2 separate regions of the Homo sapiens genome follow, and region 1 is linked to region 2. The links come from fine-mapping of genetic effects on gene expression. Tissue or cell type: thyroid. Region 2 holds a variant in brackets; the other region holds the start of a gene. All regions are shown on one strand. Distances are between the middles of the regions.

Region 1 (2,606 bases), 31 kb after region 2:
TCATTCAGTTCTCGGCTAAAGTATCAGGTCCTGGGAGAAGCTCTCCCTGACCCTGAGGCAAAGCACGCTCCTGTGGTGGTCTCTTGTCCATCTCGTCCTTGCCTCCACCCCTCTGGAGCCACAATGGAGCGGAGGTGTGCAGTCCCTGTAGCCCAAGCTGCTTGGGTTCCCACTTCAGCTGGGTCACCTGTCACCTGCGTCACTGTGTGACCCCGAGCAGGGAGCGCCGCCTTTCCGTGTGAGTCTCCTCATCTGTGAGATGGAAATGATACTATCTGCACAGCAGGGCTGTGGTGAGACTATAAGGAGATAATAAATATGAAGTGTCTAGAACAGGTGGAATCCATAGTACATGCTCAATAAATGTTAGCTCTGTCACATCCTGCAAAGATATGCTGCAGTAGGCATCACCATTTGTCCAAGGGGAGAGTCAGGAGGGCAGAAACCAGGTCTCTCTCCTCATGCCCTTTCCCAGGGCTCAGGGCAGGGCTAGGGCAGCAGGGAGCATGCAGTAAACATTTTCAGGTCAAATGAAAGGGAGCAGGACCAAAGGCACGATGGCAGATCGGGGCTTCCCCAGTGCCCCGGGGAGGCGGATTTCAGGCACAGGGACACGTGCAAAGGCACAGCTTTTAGGGAGCTGGAGGGCAGGGCGGGAAGGCCAAGGAAGCCGAGAAACGGGTCCAAGGCTCGGATGCTCTGGCCAGGATTTGTACCTTTACCTCCGAGTGTGGGAGTATTTGGCGACAGAAGCCCCTGGGGCTGCGGCTTCTGGTGGGGGTCTTCATGGATGCTCAGGGGAGGAGAACGGCCTGGAGCCACTGGAAACGGGGAAACGGGGAAACGGGTATGAGGTTGGGGAGGGGCGGGGAGGAGGGGGAGGGCGGGGCCCCAGGGCGGGAGTCTGACCCCAGGGGTCTGCGAACCCGGACCTGCGCGTGGCGCCGCGCCGGGTACCTCCCCCTCTCTGCGTCTTTGTGCATTTTGCTTCCTTTCGCAGTAAACGTTCTTCCGAGAAATTCCAAGGGGATCTCAGCCAAGCAGAGGGGGAAGGGATCCTGCCCACGCCTGGGTAGGGGGCCGCGGAGGCTGGGGAGGAGCAGGGGGCGCCGCGAGGGAGGGAGCGGGAACCCGAGGGAGCGCGCGCGCCAGCAAGGGGGCGCGGAGGGCCCGGGCCAGCTACCTGCGTGGGGGCCGCGAGCCCCGGGCGCCCCCCGCCCCGCGCGTCTCCCAGCCGCCCCCGCCCCCCGCGCGGCCCCCGCCCCGGCTCCGCCCCGCCCCTCGCGCGGGGTCCGCGTCTGCGGCTGCGTTCCCCGAAAGACGAGGCTGCGCCCGGATTCCGGTCCGCAGGGAGACCGAAGGGCACAGCTCCCCGCGCCGCGCACGCCGCCCGAGCCCGGAGTGCGGACACCCCCGGGATGTGAGTGAGCCCCCCGACCCCGAGGCCCGCGCTCCACGCCCCATCCGCGGTGAGCGCCGAGGCGCGCGCGGAAGGCCAAGGGAGGGGACTCGGCCCGGGGTTCCCGGCCCCCCAGCCCAGGGGTGGGGGTGGGGACCTGGCACGCGCCCCTCCCCCCAGTGGCAGGTCCCACCCGCTCCCGCCCCTGCCGCTCATTCCTGTCCGGACGCACCTGCAGCTCCCCGGGGAGAAGAGGACGCCCCCCATCCGCTCCCCCACACAGGTGCCGGCGCGGGGCGGAGGCGTCTCGAGCTGTCACCTCGCCCCAGAGGCCAGACGTCTCCCGGCGGGGATGCTGTGACGGCGGACGCTCTGGAGAAGGGGCTGGGGGTGGGGCTCTGCGAGCTCCGGGCGGACCCCGGCCTTGGATTCCGGGGAGAAGGTTGCATCCTGAGGCTGGGAAAGGAGAGGGTCTTTGGGGTCTCCTGACCGATGCTTCTCCCCTCCAGGCTTGCGCCCCAGAGGACCCGCGCCCCAAGCCCCCGCGCCGCCCCCAGGCCCACCCGGAGCATGCTGCCTGCAGCCATGAAGGGCCTCGGCCTGGCGCTGCTGGCCGTCCTGCTGTGCTCGGCGCCCGGTGAGTAGGGGGCCCGCGGGCTGGGTCAGGTGCCTGGGAGAGCCCGAGGCGCCGCGGGAGAGCCGGGTGTGGGGCTGCCACCCTCTGACGGTTCCCACCGCACTTCGCATAGAGCCCACGCCCCCTCCGGGACCCCTGCGACCCCAGCCCGGCCCTCGGCCCCTCTGCCCCGGCACTGGGCTCTCTCCAGCGCTCTTCCTCCAGGGCCTGGAACTGGTGGGCGGCTGGCCCCGCACGGAAGCCCTTGGTCATCCGTCACCTCTGAGAGCCTCCCGGGCCTCCTTTCAAATCCAGTTTGGTCCTTCACAGCTTGGAACCCACGGACCTCTGGGGGGGATATGTGAGGCGGGGCGGGAGTGTGAGGGGGGCACTGTCGGTGTGGGGTCTGTATAGCCCGTGTGTGTGTTTGTGTGTGTGTGTGCACGCACGTGCATGGGGGCCAGGGAGGGGCCATAGGGGCTCCCCTCAAACTGCCAGGATGGGGCACAGTTGTCCCAGGGCCTCTGCTCCCCCTCCAGGGGTCATGGGGGCCTGCTCCCTCCCGTGGGGTCGGGCTCTCCCAGGAGTGCC
Region 2 (2,606 bases):
TGAAAACGGACTAACACACCTGTCTACATCTCTGTGTTCCTGATTGTGTGAAAGCATCTTTCTATAATTTGATGGGATATTCCTAACAAAGGCCATGTGCATTTGGTTGTTTTGGTTTTAGGGTTCTTAAAGTCTCCCTCTGTCTAAGGCAGTCACCCCAGCCTGCTCTTTTGTGATGCTGGCCTCTAGGGAGAGCAGTCAGCTCCATGTAGATGTTTCCATGTAGGAATTTGCTGTCCTTGGACTTGCTTCTCCAGCCTCTGTATTTCCTGTGTGGCTTGATTAGATTCATGTTCAATTGTCTGGGGAGAATATTTTACAGGAGGGCTTTCTCTTTTTTTTGAGACAGAGTCTTGCGCTCACTCAGGCTGGAGTGCAGTGGTGCGATCCCAACTCACCGAAGCCTCCACCTCCCAGGTTTAAGCAATCCTCCCGCCTCAGTCTCCCAAGTAGCTGGGACCACAAGTGTCACCACCCTGCCTGGCTAATTTTTTGACTTTTTGTAAGGATGGGGTCATGCTATCTTGCCCAGGCTCAGGAGTGCTTTCTGCCTCCCGTTGCACCACGTCATGAGGCATATAAGGTCTGGTTGTCTCTGTTGGAGTGAGCTGGGCTGGGCCAGCAGGTACCGGTGGTAACGCTGCTCCTGATACGTTTCGATCAACAGATGGGCAATGTCTGACCGATCCCAGTGGCCGAGAAGGCCTGTCCCATCATCCCAGCTCAGAGCCACCTGGAAGGGTACTCCCCACCCCTGCAGAGTCCCTGTGAGGTCTTCCAAGCCTGACCTTGAGGCTCAGTGTCTCCGCCGCCCAGTCCTTCCCACCCCTTCCTGCACTCCCTGACCCACCTCCAGCACGGGCCTTCCTGTCTCAGGGTCCACTCCTGGGAGATCCAAGCTGCTGCCCCGTGCCCAGGTGACATAGTTTGGGTTTGTGTCCCTGCCCAGATCTCCTGTTGAATTGTAATCCCCAACGTTGGTGAAGGAGCCTGGTGGGAGGTGATTGGATCATGGAGGCAGAGCTCCTCCTTGCTGTTCTCGTGATAGCGAGCGAGTGCTCTCCAGAGCTGGTTGTTTGAAAGTGCGTGGCACCTTCCGCTTCGCTCTCTCCTCCTCCTCCTCTCTCTTCCTCCCTCTGGCCACAAGCTGTGCC[C/T]GCTTCCCCTTCACCTTCTGCCATGATTGTCAGTTTCCTGAGGCCTCCCTGGCCCTGCTTCCTGTACAGTCTGTGGAAATGTGAGTCAATTAAACTTCCTTTCTTTATAAATTACCCAGTCTCGTGGGGTTTTTTTTTGTTTTGTTTTTTGTTTTTGTGTTTTTAGACAGTTTCACTTTGTTGCCCAGGCTGTGGGGTGCAGTGGCACGATCTCAGCTCCCTGCAACCTCTGCCTCCTGTGTTCAAGTGATTCTCGTGCCTCAGCCTCCTGAGTTGCTGGGACTACAGCCGCCCGTCACCATGGCTGGCTTTTTTTTTTTTTTTTTGTATGTTTTAGTAGAGACAGGGTTTTACCATGTTGCCCAGGCTGGTCTTGAACTCCTGAGCTCAGGCAATCTGCCTGCCCTGGCCTCCCAAAGTGCTAGGATTACAGGCGTGAGCCACCATGCCAGCCTCAGGTAATTATTTTAGCTCTGCACGAATGGATGAATATACCAGGTTTTTGTAACTTCCTTCTGGAGTCATCATGAACTCATGGCTCGGCTATGTTCAGTATGGTTTCATAAACTGCAGTCATTATTTTTTCTAAGACATTTTATTTATTTAGACAAATAAAAATTGTATATATTGTGTACAGCAAGTGGTTTTGAAATATGTGTACATTGTGGAATGGAAAATTGAGCAAATTAACATATACATTACCTCATATACTTAGCATTTGAAGCGAGAACATTTACAACTACTCTCAGCAATTTTCAAGAATACAATGTTTTTCTTAATGGTAGTCACCCTGTGAGACAATAGAGCTCTGGAACTTACTATACTGACTTTGGATGCTCAAGTGCTCCCATCTGCAGTGGGCTGAGTGGTCCCCACAAGGTATGTCCGAGTCCTAGCCCCAGGCACCTGTAATGTGAGCTCATTTGGAAAAAGGCCTTTGTCCTTAAGTTAAGGGTCTGGGGATGAGGTCATCCTAGATTTGGGGTGGTCCTAAATCCAACGGCAAGTGTCGGTAGAAGAGAGAGGACGAGGAGGCCACGTGAAGACAGAGGAGGGATCAGAGGATGCGACCACGGCCAGGGCGGCCCACCACCTACAGCCACCAGATGCTGGGAGAGGCCAGGAAGGATTTCCTTGAAGAGCCTTCTGGTTGCTTGAAGCTGGGAGTTGGTGATAGTTTGTGATAATTGGTTACAGCAGCCGCAGGAAACGAATGCAGGGGGACACTCGCTGTAAGAGGAGGGAGGCGGGGACCTGGGAGGGCTCCTGTGCTCCCCCGCCCTGGGCAGGCACCAGAGTGCTGTCCCGCTCACACCCAGACCTGGTGAGGAGGTGGTGGCCCAGGGACAGCACTCTCCAAAGGCCCTGACTGGGGAGCTTAGGGGAGACACGCCCTCCCCTTCTCCTCTGCTGTCCTCCTCCAGTGCCAGGGATCTGGCACCAGGGCGTGGG

Alleles and levels. Positions count from the first base shown, and alleles are read on the strand shown. Sizes are in standard deviations (SD) of each study's normalised expression.
For the expression in thyroid of the gene that starts at base 1,297 in region 1, T is the high allele of the variant in region 2 and C is the other (moderate effect, 0.44 SD a copy in GTEx).

The links. PIP is the estimated chance that this variant, and not a neighbour inherited with it, causes the effect.
Region 1: it holds the start of LY6H, and the variant in region 2 is fine-mapped to the expression of LY6H in thyroid (GTEx, PIP above 0.99). The same link has a PIP of 0.9 or more in lung and sun-exposed skin.

The regions. Positions count from the first base shown.
Region 1 is chr8:143,159,012-143,161,617 of GRCh38, reverse strand. It overlaps LY6H (lymphocyte antigen 6 family member H), which reads left to right and starts at 1,297. Exons shown (of 4, transcript NM_001135655.2): 1 at 1,297-1,420; 2 at 1,909-2,036. The coding sequence starts at 1,419. It overlaps LOC124902035 (a long non-coding RNA gene), which reads right to left and starts at 1,749. Exons shown (of 2, transcript XR_007061136.1): 1 at 1,632-1,749; 2 at 1-821.
Region 2 is chr8:143,190,018-143,192,623 of GRCh38, reverse strand. It overlaps LOC107986906 (a long non-coding RNA gene), which reads right to left and starts at 1,065. Exons shown (of 2, transcript XR_007061137.1): 1 at 851-1,065. The variant C/T (reference allele first, on the strand shown) is at 1,155.